Linked DNA regions of Homo sapiens. The protein of the gene in region 1 purifies or fractionates together with the protein of each later gene. This does not show direct contact. Each region holds a gene or a part of one and is shown in the gene's direction. Other genes may lie near its edges.

Evidence for each region. The genes of interacting proteins can lie anywhere in the genome.
Region 2: the proteins of FA2H (region 1) and PGAP4 purify together in Homo sapiens (affinity purification with mass spectrometry; one large-scale study listed by BioGRID and IntAct). This does not show direct contact.
Region 3: the proteins of FA2H (region 1) and SEC63 purify together in Homo sapiens (affinity purification with mass spectrometry; one large-scale study listed by BioGRID and IntAct). This does not show direct contact.

What each region holds. Positions count from the first base shown.
Region 1 is NC_000016.10:74,768,319-74,771,823, reverse strand, and holds part of FA2H (fatty acid 2-hydroxylase), read left to right. Parts: intron 1-3,505. UniProt on the Homo sapiens protein: Catalyzes the hydroxylation of free fatty acids at the C-2 position to produce 2-hydroxy fatty acids, which are building blocks of sphingolipids and glycosphingolipids common in neural tissue and epidermis.
Region 2 is NC_000009.12:101,484,372-101,488,376, reverse strand, and holds the start of PGAP4 (GPI-N-acetylgalactosamine transferase PGAP4), read left to right. Parts: upstream 1-1,203; 5' UTR 1,204-1,428; intron 1,429-1,606; exon of another isoform or gene 1,607-1,809; intron 1,810-1,908; exon of another isoform or gene 1,909-2,121; intron 2,122-4,005. UniProt on the Homo sapiens protein: Golgi-resident glycosylphosphatidylinositol (GPI)-N-acetylgalactosamine transferase that catalyzes the N-acetyl-beta-D-galactosamine transfer from an UDP-N-acetyl-alpha-D-galactosamine to the 4-OH-position of the first mannose of the glycosylphosphatidylinositol (GPI) of a GPI-anchored protein (GPI-AP).
Region 3 is NC_000006.12:107,899,207-107,902,711, reverse strand, and holds part of SEC63 (translocation protein SEC63 homolog), read left to right. Parts: intron 1-1,194; coding exon 1,195-1,342; intron 1,343-3,505. UniProt on the Homo sapiens protein: Mediates cotranslational and post-translational transport of certain precursor polypeptides across endoplasmic reticulum (ER). Proposed to play an auxiliary role in recognition of precursors with short and apolar signal peptides.

The sequences.
Region 1 (3,505 bases):
CTGCATGGCTGCCACTGCAGTGGCTGTGACCATGGGGGGAAGGGGGATGAATTCGGGAGAGTCTCTAGACAATATGCTGGGACTCAGCATTGTGTGGTGAGGGCCCAGTTTAATCTGAGAGGTTGGTGTTTGGTGTCGGCTCATGCTGAAGGGTTTAGAAGAAGATATAAGAAAAACTGAGTGCAGGAGGCCAGGCACGGTGGCTCATACCTGTAATCCCAGGAATTTGGGAGGGTAAGGCGGGTGGATCACTTGAGGTCAGGGGTTTGAGACCAGTCTGGCCAACATGGTGAAACGCTGTCCCTACTAAAAATACAAAAAATTAGCCGGGTGTGGTTGTGCACTGGGTGTGGTGGTGCCCTCCCAGCTGCTTGGGAGGCTGAGGCAGGCTGATCACTTGAGGTCAGGAGTTCGACATCAGCCTGGGCAACACGGTAAAATCTTATCTCTGCTAAAAATACAAAAATTAGCTGGGCGTGGTGGTGCATGCCTGTAATCCCAGCTGCTCGGGAGGCTGAGGTAAGAGAATCGTTTGAACCCAGGAGGCAGAAGTTGCAGTGAGCTGAGATCGCACCACTGCATTCCAGTCTGGGTGACAGGTAAGATTTTGTCACAAAAAAATAGAAAAGGAAAAAGAAAAGAAAAGAAAAACTGAGTGCAGGAAATAAGAGAGGTTGAGACTGACAGGTTTGCGGTGGCTCATGGGCCCGCCCTGTGTTGTCACTGTATCCTCTAGAAAGGAGCCTTAGGGTGTGGCTCGTCCTCGCAACACCATCCTGAGTATGCTTACAGCCACCCCTGGCCAGCTGCCCTGGATGGTCCCACCTCCCAGCTCTGCTAACCACCTAGCACCATGGTTTGCCTTGTCTGATGCTTAGAGAGGGACCCAGGGACCCAGTCTCACATGTGCTTCTGACCTGTATGCTCATCTGTTGCCTAAGAGCCCGAGGGCGGGCCATGCTGCAGACATCCTTACTTCTGGGCCCCAACCTGAGCATGTGGAACAAAACTCAAAACAATGCATCTGCAGACGCATAGCCCAAACTTGACAATGGTCACACTAGCCCAGCCCTCCACTGGGCTGCCAGCTTCTGCCTTCAGAGTTCTAACCTAAGAACTAGTACAGGGTTGTCTTTAAATTGAGAGAGAGGAAGGCTGGGCACAGTGGCTCATGCTTATAATTCCAGCACTTTGGGAGGCCAAGGTGGGTGGATCACTTGAGCCCAGGAGTTCGAGACCAGCCTGGGCAACATGGTGAAACCCCGTCTCTACAAAAAATTAGCTGGGTGTGGTGGCTCGTGCCTGCAGTCCCAGCTACTCAGGAGGCTGAGGTGAGAGGATCACTGGAGCCCAGGAGGCGGAAGTTGCAGTGAGCCAGATCACACCACTGTACTCTCCAGCCTGGGTGACAGAGCAAGACCCTGTCTCAAAAACAAACAAACAAACAAAAAACTTGTGGGAGAGGTTGTCAAAGGAGAAATCTGGGGGTGGGATATCCTTTCAAAGAGATGCCTGGCTGGAGACAATTTCTGTTCTTCTCCCTAGCTAAGCCCTTCTAGCAAGCCTCAAGCTGCCTTTTGCACTTCCCTCCTCTCCTGCTGGACCAGGGATGCTGACACCCTTGTGGTTAGAGCCCCCTGTCTCTGGAGGAGCAGGAGGCTTTTGCTGGGGAAGGGGAGTGCCATGAACCAGCTCTGTTGTTTGGGGCTCGTTTCTGAATGGTGCCCCTCCTAGGGCCCTGTCCTGCTGGTTTAGCCCTTGGATGGGAGCATCCTGGCCCTTCCCCCAGGGAGAAGGCCTGGACCCGTTTGTTCCCCCTGCACCCCACTTTGCTGCACCCTCTGTAGGTACACACATTCACACTCACACGAAGGCACATTCACAAAACAAGTCCAACTTGTTTGAGCCAACATGCTGCCTGCCACGGCCTTGGACATGGTGAAGCCAAGCTGCCCACCTTGAGCGAGTGACAGAGCCGTGGCTGAGCAGGGAAGGAGCTCAGGGCGGTGGGGTCAAGAGCCTCACCCCAAGCTCAGGCGAGAGCAGTGCTCTGCCAGCTGCAGCCACATGTTAGCAGAGTATGAAGTCCACTTATTGAGCTGCGACCGGCATTTTTCACAAAAGAAATAGACAAGGAAAGGACTTTAGGTCTAAACCTCCTTCCCAGGCTATATTACTGTGTTTCCCAGACTCTGGGCATCCATGAATCACCACCCCAGGTTTTTTTCCCCCCAGTTTGGTGTACTATACTCTGGTTACTCTTCAGATTGTATAAGTCTTTCGCCTTTTACCAATTTGGTGTACCACTTGAACTGTCATAATGTAATATTTATCTTTAAATTGACCCACTTTATTTTTCCATGTACTCATGCTTGGCGATAATAACAGTAAAATCAAAGCTTTTACGTGCACTTTAAAGGGAATGGGGGCCAGGCACGGTGGCTCATGCCTGTAATCCAGGCACTTTGGGAGGCTGAGGTGGGCAGGTCGCTAGAGCCCAGGAGTTTGAGACCAGCCTGGGCAACATGGTGAAAAACTATCTCTACAAGAAAAAATTACAAAAATTAGCCAGGCATGGTGGCATGCACCTGTGGTCCCAGCTACTTGGGAGGCTGAGGTGGGAGGATCACCTGAGCCTGGGAAGTTGAGCCTGCAATAAGCTGTGATCATGCCACTGCACTGCAGCCTGAGTGACAGAGGAGACCCCGTCTCAATAAATAAATAAAGTGAATATGGAACTGGGGTTTTTCCTGAGCCCCAAGCCTGCCACCCAGAGCGATGATAACTGCCAGAGGGTGGCTCATACTCCCCCATGCCCCACCAATCCTGGAGAGGTCCTACCGTTGGCAGATATCTGACTATGCCAGCTGACCATGCCCTCTGCTTGAGAAGACTTTAGGGAGAAGGCAAGCCTGACTCGTCAGCCACTAGTGTTGGGGTAACCTTGATGTGTGAAGGTCTCGATGCCATGTTTTAATTCCACAGGGCTTGTCTGTCTCAGCATGGCTGAGAAGTCCACAGATTCAGCCACACATGGGTCTGTAAGACTTTGGGCTCTGGCCATTCAGAGCTTAAGGGCTTGAATAATTAAATGGGGAGGGACAATAAGGAGGAGATCTAAGTGCAGAAAGACTTGGAGTTTCCACCCTACCCAGGACCGGGAACATCTTGAGCTCAGCCCATCTTGGAAAGCCGGTCTGATAAAAACTGATGCTTGGGGAATTTGCTGAACTGCCGCCACCTTCTGAGCAGAGTAGAGCCGAGAAGTCGACTTACTGGAGGGGTTGAGATCACTTGGCCTCTAAGGGGGCATCCCAGGGGAGCCTGCCTGAGCAATCAACAGTCACTGCCCTCTACCACCTGCAGGGGCTTCTACACTCTGGCCTGCTGTGGTGCCAGTCGAGTCTCACCTGGAGGACGAAGCTAGGGCCAGCTGGTGGGGCATCCAGGGCCCAGGTCACTGCAGTTCCATGGCCACCCCAGGGTCAGCACAAGCTCCAGGAGT
Region 2 (4,005 bases), on another chromosome or scaffold:
ACAATCCTCCAATTTCGGAATATCAGACTCCCATTTTTTCTCCCAGGAAATGAAACTACCTTCCCAAGCTCCCTTTCTGTGCTATATCCAGCTCTCATACTTTCCAGCCTCAGATATAGGTTTTCCAGCATTCCTAATGACAAATTCCTTGAGTGAAGGATCCACACCTCATTCTTACTTCATTGTCATCTATAGTGATGGCAGTATGTCAGAACCATTCTTCAGTAAATGCTGGCTGAAAGAGTAGATGATGAATGGGGGCTCAGGTGGGTGTTTGTAAGGTTCTAAAGGAAGTTAATATCTAGTATCAATTTTACTTACACAAGAAGAAATCATATGAGCATTTACTGGCTTTAATGCTTTATCTTGTGACCACTGAACAGACCTTTTAGAGCAGGTGTTGGCAAATCAGGCAGTAAATATTTTAGGTTTTGTGGGTCATAAGGTCTCTGTCACAACTATCCAACTCTGCTGTTCTTTCATGGTAGCAGCCATAGACAATATGTAAATGATGACTATGTTGCAGTAAAACTTTGTTTACGATCATCAAATTTTGAATTCATATAATTTTCGTAGCCCTGAAATATTCTTCCATTTTTAACCATGAAATATTGCAAAAAACATTCTTAGCTTGTGGGCTGTACAAGAACAGGCAGCAAACTGTAGTTGCTAACCTGTGGCCTAGACAGGCAAACCTAGGATTAGAAGCACTGAGTAAGGCCGTACAATTGTGTGCTGAAAACCCATTCAGAAGGGAAAGTCCAAGGTGGAATGTAGGAGGCTGTTACTTTTCTTTTGACCCCCACATTTTTCCTCCCTCGGATCATTCCGTATCTTTTTCCTATTTGCTTTGCCGGGATTGTTCTCAATCAATGTGCATACTTTCTCATACCTCAGGCGTTATGTCTCTCGTGGCCGTTTGTGTTTAAATTGAGGGTTTGGGGAAGACTGAAAAACATTCAAGACCCAAAGTAACAGCTTTCTCATGAAGCGTTTACACGCATTGAGAGATATCGTTCCATTGGTGTGAATAAGTCTCTATGTACACACCTGATGAAATATAATGCTGGCTTCTAGTCCCCTCACAAAAGAAACAGGCTTCCTGTTTGCGTGACTTGGGGGCGACTCCTGCTTTTCCCTGGCTGCCCATCAGTTGGCGCCTTTTGCCGTCCTTTTTCCCCAAGCCGCTTTGGGGGCCGCGGTCTCTCCGCAGCTCGCGGGTCACATGGCCCGCCTGAGCAAGGGGAGCCCTGCGCCTGAGCTGCGAGGCGGGAGGAGGTGAGGCTCCGGCGCACACCCAAACCGCGCTGCGCCCGCTCCTTCCGGGCCCCGGAGATGGCGCCTCCACCGGGATGAGCTAGCCAGCCTGGGCAATACCAGAGGCGGCCCTCGGCGCGCGCAGGGGACCGAGCTGGTCGCCCCAACCGGGTAGGTTTCTGTTGCGCACGATCTGCCCAGCCCTTCTGGCGCGGTGGTCGGAGCCCTGGACACTAGAGCGAGGGGACAAGGATTAGGGGTGGCCACAGCTGGCACAAGCAGGGCAGCTGGGGGTTGGGGAGAGTCATCGCAGAGGGCCTGTGCCCCGGGCAGTGCGCCTCGGGCAGGCGGGTTGCCTAGCGGCCCTGCCCGCAGCTCCGACCGCTTCCTGCCGGAGGATTGCGAGGACCCCGCAGGGGTCCCCAGGGCAGCAGGGGCCCGCATCAGTGCGGGGATGGTTGAGTGTCTCGGGGGCGCCTCCCTGGCCCTTGCCTGCGCCAGCTGCGCTGACAGGTCAATAGAAGGACGCGAGCGGGGCGCGTGCCAGTCTGGGTAAGACCCTCGCCGAGCCTAGCAGGGCCGAAGCGCCAAGGGGCCTGGCGCCTAATGGCCGCCCGCAAGCAGGGGACCCTCGCGGCGCGTCCACACCTTAGGTTCGCCGGGCGCGCCGAGAGCGCGGCAGCAGTGTTGGGTTTCTGCGGGCGACCTCGCAGCCAAGGGCTGGGGGAGGGCGACTGGGCAGAGGAAGGCGTCCCTCCCAGGACCAGGAAAAACCAGCAGAAGGGAAGGAGCGCAGCGATGGAGACGGTCAGCTCGGCCTACGGGTGGGAAACTGAGGCTCAAGCGTGGCAGGGACTGCCCAAGGTCAGCGACAGACACTAGATCCAGGGCCCTGGACATCGTCCCCCATTCTTTTTCCAAGAGGGAGGGTTAATTAGATCCACCTGGGTGTGTCTCGCCCTCTTTCTGGCCCTTGGCTCCGGCGTCGCTAGTGTCGCACTGCGCTCGCGGTGTCTTGGGGCGTGAGCTCCTGCAGGGTCGTTGTGACCCGCATCCTCTGCTCGGCCCAGGCTCTCTCCGGGGGACCGCAGGGCGGCTCCAATGATGATCTCACCATGCGGACCATTAGCAACACATGCGGGTGTGTGTGCGCGTGCATGTGTGTGTTTCTCCTTCTATAGGGGAAATAGCTTTTTTTTTTAGGGGTGAATTTCTAGAATGCACTGCACTAGGTACTTTATGAGGTGAGAAGAGAAAATCAACATTATTAGAATTATTAGAATGTTGTAAGGATACACATATTAGAAAACATCCAGTAAACAAAAATCCAAAGGAGAAGCAAAATAAAAATAACTTAAAACTTCAACTTCTAGATGGTTTAGATTTTCTGCATATCTTAAAATTTTCTCTATGTATACACATTTGAAGTTTTAAATCAAAAGCGTGGACCAAAAAATGGTATCTTGTCTTAATTTGCATGTCTTTGATTACCCATGGGAATTAACACTTTTTCCTCTGTGTAGTAGCCTTTTGCATTTCTGTAGGTGAGTTGATTGTTAATTCTTCTGCCCATTTTTCAGTTGGAGTATCTTTCTCCTCCTGACTTTTAAACACTTTATGTGTATTACACATTGAAGTAGTAATTCTTTGTCACGTGTTGCACTATAGCGAGTATTTTCTGTTAATTTTTACTAGTTCTAATTCCAAATGATCTTTTGGATACTTTGGTCAATTTTTTATTTTGATGGTTATATGGGCGTATAAATTTGACAAAACTCATCGAAATATATATATATTTAAGTGGTGCATTGTACTGTATGTAAACTGCACCTCAATAAAATTAATTTTTAAAGGCCTAGAAAATTATCATCCTGGGTAATGAGAGAGAATTTGCCTAGTCAGATATTAAAACCTGTTATAAAGCTTTCATAATGAAAATAACATGGCCCTGGCACCACAATGCAGAGAGAGATAGATGCCAAAATCCACAAACAGATATATATATACATCATTTAATTTATTATAGCTATAGCAACTTAAATCACAAATTTAAAAATGGACTTAACAGGTGCCCTGACTGTCATGTTCACCTTCCCAGTGTCTAACACAAGACTCAGTGTTGAATCAAATGCTTAATTATGATTATAAAAGTAATGATCTTTGCAGAAGTGTAGATATCAAAACAGGAAATTGCCATCCCCATACCCTTCTTTTCTCCTTCACTAAATTATACTCCACATTAAAAATAAAATGGTCATATCTCTGTACATTTTTCTGTAATTTGCACTGATATAGTTTGCATTTCTCCCTTCTGGTCTTAGTCTACTTGAGCTGCTGTAACACATTCTCAAAGACTAGGTGGCTTAAACAACAGACACATTTATCTCTCAAAATTCTGAAAGCTGGAAGTTCCAGATCAGGGTGCCAGCATGGTCAAGTTTTGGTGAGGGCTCTCTTTCCGGTTTACATGTGAGAAAGCAGAGAAGAGAAGTGATCTCTCCTGTCTTTTCTTATAAGGACACTAATAAAGAACATGCATTACTGAGGTCTGCACCCTTATGACCTGATTACCTTCCAAAGACCCCATCTCCAAATACCATCATATTGGAGATTAGGATTTATAACACGAATTTTGGCTGGGCAGGAGGAGGACAAACATTCAGTCCAAAGCACAAACCTAGCTAAGATTTCTTTTATGTCAACATATTTAAACCTTTCTCTTCTTAACATTTCCACAGCATACCCTTT
Region 3 (3,505 bases), on another chromosome or scaffold:
TTCTCTCAGGTGGTTCTGTTAACATTTTCTTGACTAGGTAGCTGTGTTTTATAGTATTTTACTACTGTAAGTAGTTTTATTATTTTGGGGGTTGTTGCATTTAAAAAGTCAACAGTTAGTTCCTTATATTATGTTACCAAAAATAAATGTACTGTCTACTTTACAGTCATTTTATTCTTGGCTTAAGGTTGGGCAATTGTTTACTGGTTAAGCATGAACAACAAAAACATTTAATAAATCAAATAAAGACAGTTCTTATTTAGAATATATAATCTATAGTATAAACATGATAATGAATCTTAAGATATAACAAAAATTTGTGTAAATGAAAAACTTGAGGAAATATAAGAAACTGAAGTTACAATTCTAGTAGGAGATTTTAAACATTATTTTGTATATGATAGATAAAACTAGCAGAGAATAGACATTGGATTTGATAGTATATTAATGTAGAATTAATAAATGCATGTTGGAAATTAGTATCAGAGTTCTCTGTCCTTTTAAGTACTCATGTTCCCCTTATAAATTTGATTGTATGTTAAGTCATAATTAAAAACTTCAGAATCTAAAAGCAGAGATTTTACATGCCTCATGATCTAATCTGTGTCTTTGAAAGTGAAAAATAACTAGCACCAAACACCTGGAAAATTAAAGAACACGCTCCTAAGTAACCATTTTGCCAAGATGGATATTACTGTAGTAATAGCTATATTTTAAGAATAACAAAAATGAGAATATTGCATAGTAAAACTTTGAAGGTGCGTCTTTATTGAGGTTTATTTTTACTTTTATTAGGTAAAAGTAAACGTTTATTATTAAAGGTTTGTTAATAGTAAACCTATTAATTGCTAATTAAAGGTTTTTGTTATTAAAATTGAAAATAAACTGAGGACATCAATTGACAAAGTTCTTGGTTGAGTCAAGATTCTTATTTTTTCCCTCCAACTTTGTTTTTTCTAATTTAAAAAAATAAGCCTGTATTAACTTTATAATTTAAAAATTCTTAATTTAAATTTTCTTGGAGAAAAAGGTCATGAAATGCCATATCGTTATTTTGTACTTTGAAATGCACATTAATCAACACTTTTCTAAAAGTTGCTGGATTTTGTTGTGGTTAACATGTGAGTAATTTTCTTTTTATGAAAAGCTTTGTGAGTTAGGGAATTATGTATTTTCTTTTTTTTTTTTATTCAGTATAAAATTAAAACTATCCAGGATTTGGTGAGTTTAAAAGAATCAGATCGTCACACTCTACTGCACTTCCTTGAAGATGAAAAATATGAAGAGGTTATGGCTGTCCTTGGGAGTTTTCCATATGTGACCATGGATATAAAATCACAGGGTAAGTGGGAGGTTTCTCTGTTGAGCATTGCTTCCCTTTTGATAGATTGGTTCTCATTTATTTGACTCAGGATTCTCAAAACACTGTACTTAATAACATAACTTGTTATTAGACTTTGCAGAACTGTAGTTTACCTGTCAGATTTACTATGTTGGAAAATGATTTATACCTAATAGTTTGAGAACACTGATAGAGTCCTACTTTTATTATCCTCATAATGGGATGAAGTCTGAACACTCTGTTCTGTAGTTCAACTTTTAGCAATTTCTTAACTTTCCAAAGAATGATGAAGACTTCCAGGCATAATAAAAGAATGAGATATTTGAAGTATATTATTAGTATGAAAGAAATAGCTGCCTAGTTCTAAAATTAAATTTTTAAAACCCAACTTATTTATGTTAATTAAATGTTGAAAATTACTGTGTTTTATGCCACATTTCATGTGTTTTTCTTGCCCTACCTCTATATTTTCTTTGAGGGAAAAAAATAAAGGCTATTTTTCTACCTATATAATTGCTCTGTGTTTCTATTTCAATATCTGAATGGTCTTAGAATACTGAGAGAATTAGAGACTATCTGCTCCATTCTTTCATTGTGGTGGTGGTCTGAGCTTTAACATTTGCTAAGTTACTATTATGAGAACATTCTTTTAGTTACCAAGAATACAGGGATATATTAATAATGGTTTCTGTCTTTATTTTATTTATTTATAAATAATTTTTGAGACAGGGTCTCACTCTGTCGTCCAGGCTGGAGTGCAGTGGTGCGATTTTGGCTCACTGCGTCCTCTGCCTCCCGGGCTCAAGCAATCCTTCTACCTCAGCCTCCTGAGTAGCTGGGACTACAGGTGCACACTACCATACCTGGCTAATTTTATTTTTTGTAATTTTAGTAGAGACAGCGTTTCACCATGTTGCCCAGGCTGGTCACGAGCTTCTGGGCTCAACTGCTCCACCTGCCTTGGCCTCCCGCAGTGCTGTGATTATAGGTGTGAGCCACCGTGCCTGGTTTGTGTCTTTAAAGAGAGCTTATTGTCTAGTTGAAGCAATAGGCTTAAAAATAAGATAAGGGCTGGGCCCAGTGGTGTCATGCCTTTAATCCCAACACTTTGGGAGGCCAAGGCAGGGGGATCACTTGAACCCAGGAGTTCGAGACCAGCCTGGGCAACATAGTGAGACCCTGTCTTTATAAAATTAAAAAAAAAACACACACACACCAAGATAACATATGCTAAGTGTTAACGTGAATGACACAGACATTGTACCATTTATTTATACAGCAAATATTGAATGCTGTGCACTCCTCTAGGTGCTAGGGAAGCAGTGGTAAGACATACCCTCTGCTTATTGAGCTTGTATTCTAATAGGAATTCTAATTGGGAAAGGAAGGCAAACAGTGCAATCTGGTTTCAGTTTGGCTGGAGTGTAGCATATGTGTTGTGAAAACTTGGTTTGCTTTGGTGAGGAGTTGGGGTTGCCTTGTGGGGCCATGAGTTTTCAGACTTTAAAAATACTAATTTAAAAGCTGTATTTAGGACTGTGCTGATTTAATAAAACTGTCCAAATAAAAATTTTGGGACTTAGAGATACTTTGTGATATTAAGAACTGTTAAAAGTATACCCTTTTCTTTTCTTTTCTTTTCTTTTTTTTTTTGAGACAGTCTTGCTCTGTTGCCCAGGCTGAAGTGCAGTGGCACTATCTGGGCTTACTGCAACCTCCAACTCTAGGTTCAAGTGATTCTCCTGCCTCAGCCCTCCCAAGTAGCTGGGATTACAGGCGTGTGCCACCACCATGCCCAGCTAATTTTTGTATTTTTAGTAGAGACGGAGTTTCACCATGTTGGCCAGGCTGGTCTCGAACTCCCAGCCTCAGGTGATTCACCCACCTCAGCCTCCCAGAGTGCTGGGATTATAGGCGTGAGCCACCATGCCTGGCCAAAAGTACATGCTTCTTAGAAAAATGAATATTAGAAGAGATTTTCTTATAGAAAGTAGAAATTTAAGAGTGTTCGGCCTCACTGACAAATATTACCATGGATCCACTCCATAGCATCTTGGATAGACAGTTTATTTATATTTTTACAGTGCTGCCTAATTATGTAATAATAGTGCTATAGTTGGTGAAGGAGGAGTAGAAGAAATATAGAAGCAGGAAAGGGGCATC